2 separate regions of the Homo sapiens genome follow, and region 1 is linked to region 2. Evidence: fine-mapped expression QTL. A gene starts in region 2. The other region holds a variant in brackets. All regions are shown on one strand. Distances are between the middles of the regions. Region 1 overlaps ARL3 (ARF like GTPase 3). Region 2 holds the start of ARL3 (ARF like GTPase 3).

Evidence for each region. PIP is the estimated chance that this variant, and not a neighbour inherited with it, causes the effect. A credible set is the group of variants that fine-mapping cannot tell apart.
Region 1: its variant is the best candidate, but not a certain one, in a credible set for the expression of ARL3 in lung (TOPMed, PIP 0.76).

Annotation. Positions count from the first base shown.
Region 1 is chr10:102,671,997-102,677,366 of GRCh38, forward strand. It overlaps ARL3 (ARF like GTPase 3), which reads right to left. Exons shown (of 6, transcript NM_004311.4): 6 at 1,735-4,945. The coding sequence ends at 4,898. Among named protein-coding and RNA genes, the nearest start is that of TRIM8, 30 kb to the left of the region's middle. RefSeq lists an enhancer at 1,809-2,358. The variant C/A (reference allele first, on the strand shown) is at 2,877.
Region 2 is chr10:102,711,551-102,716,920 of GRCh38, forward strand. It overlaps ARL3 (ARF like GTPase 3), which reads right to left and starts at 2,847. Exons shown (of 6, transcript NM_004311.4): 1 at 2,723-2,847. The coding sequence starts at 2,725. SFXN2 (sideroflexin 2) reads left to right here and starts at 3,086. Exons shown (of 12, transcript NM_178858.6): 1 at 3,086-3,131. RefSeq lists silencers at 2,507-2,606, 2,647-2,696, 2,764-3,158, 2,977-3,126 and enhancers at 2,912-3,488, 3,489-4,064.

The DNA.
Region 1 (5,370 bases), 40 kb before region 2:
GTCCCAAATATTGCATGGGATATACTTGAATTAAAAACTATTCATTGTTTATCTGAAATTCAAGTTTAACTGAATGTTCTGTAATGTATCTGGCAACCCTAATTCTTCTTTCTCCTGCTTCCAGCTACCAGCTAGTTCTGCCCACAGCTTGCTCTTTAAAGGCCGGGCGCAGTGGCCCACGCCTGTAATCCCAGCACTTTGGGAGGCCGAGGTGGGCAGATCACGAGGTCAGGAGATTGAGACCATCCTGGCTAACACGGTGAAACCCCATCTCTACTAAAAATACAAAAAAACCCCAAAAGTTAGCCGGCGTGGTGACAGACGCCTGTAGTCCCAGCTACTAGGGAGGCTGAGGTGGGAGAATGGCATGAACCCGGGAGGCGGAGCTTGCAGTGAGCTGAGATTGCGCCACTGCACTCCAGCCTGGGCGACAGAGCGAGACTGTCTCAAAAAAAAAAAAAAAAAATTAGCCAGACATGGTGGTACATGCCTCTAGTCCCAGCCACTTGGGAGGCTGAGTTGGGAGGATGGCCTGAGCCCAGGAGGTTGAGGCTGCAGTGAGTTGTGACTGTGCCACTGCACTCCAGCCTGGGTGACAGAGCGAAGTCCTGTCTCAAAAACACAAAACACACACACACACACACAAATGGTGAGGCCCTTTGGGACCAGCTGTGCTGCTGTGTCTCTAGCCTGCTGAAGGGACAACGAACTCTTCTGCTCCAGAGGGCAGAGCCCGGGACAGCTGCCAACTCTGCACCTTCCATGTAACACTGGGCAGGTCTGTTCCCTCTCGGAACCCTCTGTAAATGGAAGATCCAGTATTAGGTACTATGTAACTGCAAGTCTCCCTGAAGGCCCTAACTTTGCTAATTATTTCTTCTCCCTTTTTCCTGTCTGTTGGGCTGGACTTGGCCAAGGATGAAACCCAGTCTATGGTTGTGCTGTGTGAGCAGAGGACACCCAACACCTGGGGCAGGGAACCCAGGGGAGCAGTGCTTGTCAGAGGCTGAGGGGAGGAGGCTGGGCAGAAGTAGCACTCAGAGGCTGGGGGGGCTGAGGCTGCTGGGAGATGAGCCATTGACAAATTTTTTTTTTTTTTTTTTTTTTGCAATGGAGTTTTCTCCTGTTGCCCAGGCTGGAGTGCAATGGCACGATCTCAGCTCACTGCAACCTCTGACTCCTGGGTTCAAGCAATTCTCCTGCCTCAGCCTCCCAAGCAGCTGGGATTACAGGCACGTGCCACCACGCCCGGCTAATTTTGTATTTTTAGTAGAGACGGGATTTCACCATGTTGGTCAGGCTCGTCTTGAACTCCTGACTTCAGGAGATCTACCTGCCTTGGCCTCTGAAAGTGCTGGGATTACAGGCGTGATCCGGCCTTGCCATTGACTGTTTTTGTTCTCCAGAGGCGGCAGCTTGCTGAGCATTGAGACCCAGGCTCCAGGCCCCACCTGCACTTAAAGGCTCTGTGATTTCAGGCAAATTCCTTAACTGGGGCAAATGTCTCAATGTCCTCTGCTGCAAAGGGGGACTAATGCTCACCACGATGTATCTGAAGTGCCCGGCACGTAGGAGGGGCTTAATGAAGGGCTATTATTGCTATTGTTGGTATCCTATTTTATATATATATCCTTCTGGAAAAAACCTCTTGAAGAAAGCTAACCCCTGAAAGGACAAACACATTTCAGGCCCTCTCTGAGCTTCAGCAAAGAACACAACACATTCCAGGCTGCCTTCGTTCCAGCTAAATTTTATTTGTCGGATTTTTGACAGACGTCTAAATTATACATTGAGTTTTCCACATGACCAAACACCACATCTCTTCCTTTGATTATCATTTTCAAAAGGGATTATAAAAAAAGAACCTTTTGATGGATCAGACTGAACCCTGAAACCACATGGAGTGCAGAGCTAAAAATAAAAGGAAGTAAGAACTGGTCCCCGAGAAGGAAAGGAAAGGGAAATCAAAGCAAACTCTGACGGGAATGGAGAGACGAGTCCTGGTGAGGGTGACATGGTGTCACCCTCCAGGCCAGGCCGGATAAGGAGCGGCCAACAGTGAGGGTGGGGCGCAGAGTGGCACAAAAATAGCCACTACTTTAGTCCAGAGGGGAATAAAGAAATTTGTCAAAAGCAAGGAGAGAGAAGTGGAGACGGAGGGAGGGAGGAAGGAAGGGGGCAGGACCATGTCCTCCCAGCAGCCGTGGGAGCTGCGGACTCCTTTAACCCTGGCACATTTCTAACCGCCGGCATAATCGCTGACTTTCAGCTGTGCACCGACATGTTCCCCAGCTCAGCCCACATCAATGACACCCTTGTTTCCATAGTAACCAAGGGAGAGTGAAGGGGAAAGGGTGTGTTGCACTGGGTGCAGGGAATCCAGCCAAAAGCAGCCACACGGGGTAGGTCGGGAGGAGGGGAGGACTCGAGTTTTTCCCACAACTGGCTTGAGCACATATCACGAGCACCCCCCAGGCCTTGCCTGCCCTCCGGCCCCCAGCCCTCTCCCCCGCACATTCAGATGCAATTGTGCGCAGGGCAAAAGTCTCGCTAAGACTCACTGGGGACAGGAGGAGGGGAAAAGGGGTCTTCCCTTTCCAGCTTCAAATTCTGTCTTCTGGTCAGGGGGCAGGAGTGGGCAGGGAAGAGGCAAGAGGGCTTTAAAAAGTATTTTGTTTTTAAATGGGAGCTTTCAAACTCTGCCTTTTTCAGGCTTCTCTCATCTACCCCAGAGCCCCAGGAGGGTTCAAAAGGGCTCAAAGGGAAGATGAAAGCGTGTGACATCTGCAGTGTCTCTGTGTCTCTGCAGCTGAGAGCAAATCAGAACATTTACAGAGGCCGTTATCAGAGGAGTGGCTTCTGCCTGCTAGGAGAGG[C/A]CTTGGGATGGCTCTTTAAAACAGTCCCCTAAGTTGGTGGTAAAAGAACAAAAATATTTTACAGACCCTCCAATGCCAAAGTTCCATACTGCAGTGTTCCAAAATTGCAGACCTCCAAGCAGGCATTTTGCCCCTCAGATAACTTGTCCCTGCTGAACTATTCGGAAGAAAAAACAATTTGCAAGTGCTAGAGCCACATTTGCAGCCTGGTAGAAGGGGGATTTCTGATTCCTTATAATTCTGTGTTGCCTCTGTAAGGGAGAGCTTGGGTGAGCCAGAGAAGCCAGTGGAGGAGGCTGCAGAGAGCAGCTAGCTCTGAGGTTAAAAAAACCCCTCACTTTCTTTTGTTTTGCAAGTCCTTACAGGTCTGTCCACAGCAACTCTGGGGCACCTTTTCACGGCTGGCTTTGTTAATGACTTTCATGTCAGATCGCTTTTGAAGCTGGCTATGCCTCAGTCTCTGCTGCACTCTTAGCCAGAAGCAGCTGGGTATTGAGGGCCAGGGGCTGCAGCGGCCCCTTCAGTCTGCTCACACGCCCTGATGGGCTTGGGAAGGGCCACCTCCCAGGATGAGAAGGCAGCTGGCCCCCAGGGACCCACCAGTCACTGGACAGTCTCTTATTCATTCTCTGAAAACCCCTGAGCTCAGGCACCAGAACAGAGTTTAATTCAGGAGCCGGGCAATGCTCTGGCCTGTTTCCCCATGTTTGAAGCTGAGGATTTCTGAGGTTCAGGGAAACAAGCTCGTTTTGCAACGAGGGGCAGGAGAAATGTTCTGCTATTCCTCTCCAATCAATCAACAGAGGACGGACATTCTGCTGCAGAGAGGCAGAGGAGCCCAGCAGCTGGGGTGACTCTTGATTCCTTGGACACGACCCCTGCAGTCACACACACACCCATGTCCTCCCCAGCAGCAAACCCTCTCCATCCAGGAGCATCCCACACCACCAAGTTGCCAGCACTGTAAAAATTGATCTAAAAATCGATCTGCCTGGCTTTTCTCAGTGGAGCAGGTTCATGGTAAAGCTGCATTTATTTCTAAAATCTGATAGCAGCGGCCTATTGTGATCGTTTAAACACAGAATTCTTTGAGCTTTAGAAATCCTGTCTATAGGACGGCCGTGGAGAAGCCAGCTAATCTCAGAGTCGGCTGCTCACTGCTCCACTGAGCTGGAGAAAGCCTGTTTACGCTAGCCTGAGCCCTCGATGTGAGAGCTTTTTAAGGACCTTGTAATTTTTCTGGAATTAAACCTCCCACCTCTCCTTACATTCCAGATGTCATTACAGTCAAAAGTCATAAGAATTTGCTTCTCTGTGTGGCTGGCTGGGGCAGAGGCAGGGGTGGGTGGGATGGGGTATGTTTCTGTAGTGACTTGTCTGCAAGAAAGACTTTTTTTTTTTTTTCTGTCCAAAGAGTGAGGATTACATACGTAGTCTCCGACCTGCAAGACGATGAGATGGTTTAATTATCTGCCTTTTCTCCCCCCACCCCCACCCAGCAGCTTCCTGTCGGACAGACTGAAGCCTGGCTGGGCTAGTGACGGTAAAAATCACTGACAGCACCAGCAAACACTGTCTGTGGTTTCAAAACCATGGAGGGAATGCAAGGGACGGGTCAGTAAATAAATGAACTCAGCAAAGCTGCTTCTTCCTCTTTTTCTTTTTCTTTTTTTTTTTTTGAGAGGAAAAAAAAGCCCACTGGAATTGTCTAAACTGCAATGCAATCTCTTGCTCATTTAAAAGATCTCATTTTCTAATCATGTGCTTTGAGACATTTAATACTATTTCAATTATGCAGAGGAAATAATATAATTCCTTTATTTGAAAAATGATACTGAACCTCAGAGATCAGTTAAATCTACTGCTGGAATGGGGATTCTTTCTAAACCGTGTTGTTCCCTCTCTTCAAACAGCTGGAGCTGTACACAGATGGAAAAACATTTGGTCAGAAAGCAGCAAATTAGTGTTTTTCAGGACCGAATTCGGCTCCCGCAGCTCCTGCATCTCCATTCGTCTAGATTTTATTTCTTCTTTGCATTGACATTTTTGCAGACCCAGTTCATGCCATCCTTTGAGGGAAATGGGCAGAGAAAGGCAGTGTTAGTTATAAGAAAAGCACCACACACTCTAGCCTGGAGGGGCGGGCAGTGGGGGTCCCAGGCCCTCCCTCCCAGACCGCCAGCTTTAGGGAGTTTGCTTGGCTCAGGGGCCCACCTGGGTGACCAGGGACAGTGACCTCCCAGGAGGAGGAGGAGGGAGGTCTCTGAGAGCACAAGAGGGCGATGGGAGGGGGATGCCCAGCGCCTGAACTTGAGATGGGTCCTCAGGAACTCCCTCTGAAAAAATAAACACATCTGCCTGCATCCAAAGCCTGACTGAAGAGCTATCAGGAAAGATTCCAGCCATTTTTGGCTTTTTCTAAAAGGTGACCTTTGCCAGGGCATTAAATTCAATAAGCCACCCTTTTGGTGCCCCATGTGTTTACAGTGTGACA
Region 2 (5,370 bases):
ACCATCCTGGCTAACATGGTGAAACCCCGTCTCTACTAAAAACACACACACACAAAATTAGCCGGGCGTGGTGGCGGGCGCCCATAGTCCCATCTGCTGCGGAGGCTAAGGCAGGAGAATGGCGTGAACCCGGGAGGCGGAGCTTGCAGTGAACGGAGATCGCGCCACTGCACTCCAGTCTGGGTGACAGAGCAAGACTCCGTCTCAAAAAAAGAAAAAAAAAAGAAGAAAACAGGAACAATACTTACATCTCAAGAGATGATGCTATGAGGATGAAATGAGGTCATGTATGTAAAGCATGACACATAACAGCCACTGAAAAGACTACCCTCGTGTTTTGTTTATTTTTTTAAAATAATTTTTCACGGGCCATTTTCTAACCAGAAAACATAAGTAACTGTTGGGAACAATCTTCAAATGTTGAACATGCTTGAGAACGACCACAAGCTCCATATATGTAGAAAGTGCTCCATAAATAATTACTGAATGAAGGAATCATATGTTAAATATAAGTGGTTAGTTACGTGCTAAAATTACTGTCATTTTAGTATTTTAGTAATTCATCAAGAACCTGGCACTGTAAAGCAGGGGTAAAATAGCTGACTCTAAATGTTCAGAGAAACCCATATTTGGGTTTTTGCCACAGTTACCCAAATTTGAAAAAAAATATGTATTTGTCACAGCTGAAGTTTAAAACAAAAACCAAAAAAACCTTGGGGTTCACGCTTCAGTTGTACAGTTAACCATGGGGGCTCATGGGATACCAGATGGGATACACTTAAGTCACACGACTGACTAAATTCAGTGTTTCACTTCAAGTTTTAAGAACAGCTCACGCTTGTGGAGATAGAAAAAAAATGTTTTTGGGAAACCAGATAAAGAATCCGGAATAATTTGTCTTAATTTCTTATTGTTCATCTTAGGAAAAAGGAAAAAAGAAAAACAAAATCTGTTTTCATCATTGAACACAACAGTTGTATACAACAGTGTTGTATATACACTGTAAATTTGTTGTATACTGTGCCAATTTGCACCTGGAAACATGGGCAGTGGTTAATTTACTGTGGCCTGTAATTATAAATTAAACAATCATGGATTACACAGTACACTTAATTGATCAACAAACTGGGAAAAGTTAGCCAACTCTCATGCACTTCTCATCCATAATGATGAATCTCAATCTCTGTTGGTTCGGCATGCCCTTTTCATTCCAATTCTAGCTATTTTCTGGGTAAATATTTATGTTTGTACTCATTTGTTGAGAAAAACTTTAACTTTAAAAGGACAGCTCACGTATAAATGATTAAGAAAAAGAAACAGTTGTAAAAATCTGTTTAGCCTGAGGTTAAAAAAAAACTGCAAGTGTAGCAAGTGTGAAATGTGATTGGCAACTTCAGATCAAATAACCCTACTTCTTTAACAATCTGACAATGTAAAATCAATTGAGTTTTTTTTTTCCTTTCTAAATCTACTCACTGGATAATCTGACCAAACATACATCTATTTTTTTTTTTCCTGGGCATCTAGTTTTTTTGTTTTTTTTTTTACTTCTTAAATCAACAGAAATGGCTCAACATTTCTAAAAGTCAAGAAAGGAACTAGGAAGAGAGTTGGAGCAGTGACTATAAGTTTGATGACAGGCTCTTTGCAGCCAACTAACCTGCTTTAAGTGTTCAAAATCAATTTTTCTTTGATAGCTCTAAAATTACTCAATTCCATTTTAACTCCCTCCAACTAACTGTACAGACATTAACAAGAAACAGAGTGTCAACGGTCAGATCTGTCACAACCATAATTTAGAATTTGGGAAAGCTTTAATTGGGACTGACAGAGAAAAGCCTTGCCCCGGATTGAAGTTCGATCTCCATTTTTAACTTCTCGTTCTTTTCAGTTTGGAGAACTCAAGCTAGGATTAAGATCTTTTGGTCCTGGTATGGTCACACGCAAGAGGAGACTGCAAAAGGTTTCGAAGGAAATTCTAGAGACGGAGCAGCTAATATGTCTTCATCAACATGGATTATGTATTGAATGAAAAATCGGTCATCACCAACAATCAGATCCTGCAAAACTCTCAGCAAATAACTAAATAATTCGGGACTGAGGAAGCGCACCCGCCACGCAGACACCAAGACGGCGTAAAATCCACCAGGCATCCCTTCCAAGCGGCACCCCTTTGTGTCGTGGGACTTACTTCCCTACCCCCCAGGGGCCCGCACAGCGCGAGAAGGAGGAGAGCTAGGCTACCATCTCCCCTGCTACCGCCAGGGCGACCTCAGAGCCAATGGGGCCGGCCTTCTCTCCGCTTCTGGCCGGGCTCCAGACGAACCCCACTTTACTGCAAAGCCGCGAGACCGATTGCCCGGGAAGTCTAAGCCTGCTAGCGAAAGCTGCTCTCCGCAGTTCCTGGGATCCGCCCTCACCCCTGTCCCCAGAGTAATGATGGAGCCCGGGCTCCGCACCCGGCCAGCCGCGCACTCTGCCAGCCCCTTCCCCAAGCCTCGGACCCGCTGCAAGCCCCGCCTTCCTCTCCAGGCCCAGGCCTCCCTCCAGGGCCCACCCTCGGGTCTCCCCGCCGACCCCCGAAATCAGTCCACAACCCAGATAGCAGGCTGAGCGACGTCCCATTCCCTCCTTGGCTTTAAGCGCAGTGCTCCGCCCTGGGCCTGGGGACGGGAGGGGGATAACCGGCCGGCTCCAAGGGGGCCCAGGCCCCCACACTCACCATCCTCCCGCCGAGTCCCTCCTCCTCCTCCTCCTCCTGCTGCCTCCCCCGTTACCAGGGGCAACTGCTGCGGCGCCGCCCCCGACGTCCCTCGCACGCACAGCTGAGGAGCTGAGCAGCAATACGGGGCGGGGTGCAGCTCCGCTTTCCCCAGAGTGCGCAAGTGCGCTAAGGCGCCCGCCCACGCAGTGGGCGGGCTACGGGAGCTGCAGAGGCCGCCGCCGGCTCGCCTGGACCAGGGAGTGGAGAAAGCCTGCCCACGTGGCTGGCGGGAGCCTCCCGGCCTGGGATTGGTCGAAAAGGAGGGGCGTGGGGCGGGCGTGGGGGCAGTTCCCCAGCCCAGGTCCTCCTCTCACCCGGGCCAGTTTTCAAGGCGGGCTGTAACTGGTGGCATTTGTCCCGGGACCAGGTAAGGGGCCTTGGGACAATGGCGCTCGCCCTGTCTACCTCCAATCCCCACATCTCGGGTGGGTGCTGAGATTGCTGTCCTGACTGCCCAGGCGGGGCTGCAGCGCGGGCTGGACTTCCACCTGCAGAAGCCACGTGGCGCGAAGTGCGCCCTGGGGCTGCAGATGGGCCCCTCTGCTCTGACCCCCATTGCCTAGGAGTGCCAGGCCGAGCGGCTGGGGCGTTACGAGCTGTCCGGGATGGGGGAGTACCGATGGGGGGAGGCCGTCTGTCGGAGGGCAAGAAGCAGCCTGGGGGCTGGCCCTGAGCCCTGAGGTGAGCTGAAAGCACAGGTGAAAGGCGTTTTGGGGATCGGCCCGGTTTTTGTTTTGACACAGGGTGTCGCTCTGTCGCCCGGGCCGGAGTGCGGTGGCGCGATCTCGGCTCACTGCAGCCTTTGCCTCACAGGCTTAAGCGATTCTCCCGCCTCAGACTCTCGAGTAGCTGGGATTGCAGGCGGGCGCCACCACGCCTGGATAATTTTTTGTATTTTGTTTTTGTAGAGACGGAGTTTCGCCATGTTGCCCAGGCTGGGCTCGAACTCCTGGGGTCAAGCCATCCGCCCGCCTAGGCCTCCCAAAGTGCTGAGACTACAGGTGTTCCAAAGTGGTGAGCCACTGTGCCCAGCCTCTGGCCGGTTTTGCTAAGCTGCTTTGGACAGGACCGCGTACCATCTGTAGTCCTGGAGGAGGCAAAAATGAGCCTGCATTTTTAGCCAAGGAAGAGCAAGTGGGACACTGGGGTGGGTTGGGAAGTGCTACCTCCCATCCCTTTCCCGATGCAGAGGACTATAAGAAGAGTTTACACAAACGTGCTAGGCCCTGTTCTAGACGCTGGAGACACAGCAGTGGACAAAATCAGCCCGTATGGAAATTACATCCTTCCTAATGAAATACATTTCATACCAAATTTCATTTTCACAACCCCTAGAAATTGGTAATTGCGGCCAGGCGCAGTGGCTCATGCCTATAATCCCAGCACTTTGAGAGGTGGAAGGGGAGGAAGGCTTGAGCCCAGGAGTTGGAGACCAGCCCGGGCAACACAGTAGGACCCTGCCTCTACAAAAAAAAATTTTTTTTAATTAGCCAGGTTCCGTGGCGCACTTGTAGTCCTAGCTACTCGGGAGGTTGAGGCTGGAGGATTGCTTGAGCCCAGGAGCTATTATCACATCACTGTACTCCAGCCTGGGTGAAAGAGCAAGACCCTGCCTCAAAAAAAAAAAAAAAAATGAAAACAAAAATCAACATCTGCTGCTTGCATACCTGCTTCAGATCCTTGGAGAGAAAAAGCAGTTCAGAGCCTTGACTAAGGAGGTGATGAATGGAGGTGATACAGGAGCACAAACCCCTATAATCTACTCATCTCCAGACTGTTGGCCCTTTTGTGAAAAAGGCAAGGGAGGTTGCTCTTTCTAAGTTGTCTGGTGCCTAACAGCCCACTTGCCTTGGAGTCAGACGAGTACCCATAAGCCTATACCTGGGCCTGCTCTTGTAATTATTACCCTCATTTTCCAGCTTGCTCTAGGCAGCCTTGACCTTAATCCTTGCCTGTCTCAGTGGTCTTTGTGTCTGACCTTCTGGGGTCTTTGGCTACCTTGATCTTCCTCTGATGTGAGTACCAGCGATGATGTTTCGTTTTTCTCCCTACCTGGGGCTACAAACAGTAATCTTGTGCACTTCTGCTTGTAAGAGGATACCTCAGAAGGAATTTGGAAGCTTGTTTTCTGATCTCTGATACCATTTGCCAGAGAAAATCTGCTCTTTCTGGGAAGGATGAGCATTACGTCAGAGGTGGCAGTAGTCTATTACTTTTTTTTTCTCTTTGTTTCCCTCTCTTTCTTTCCTTTTTTTTTTTTTTTTTTTTTTTGAGATGGAGTTTCACTCTTATTGCCCAGGCTGGAGTGCAACGGTGCGATCTCGGCTCATCACAACCTCCACCTCTCGGGTTCAAACGATTCTCCTGCCTTAGCCTCCCAAGTAGCTGGGATTACAGGTATGCACCACCACGCCTGGCTAATTTTTTATTTTTAGTAGAGACGGGGGTTTCTCCATGTTGGTCAGGCTGGTCTTGAACTCTCAACCTCAGGTGATCTCTCTGCTTTGGGCTCTCAAAGTGTTGGGATTACAGGTGTGAGCCACCGTGCCAGGCCTCGGAGTTGGCAAGTAGGCTATAGTGGATAGAGGACCTTGGGGAAGTAAGGC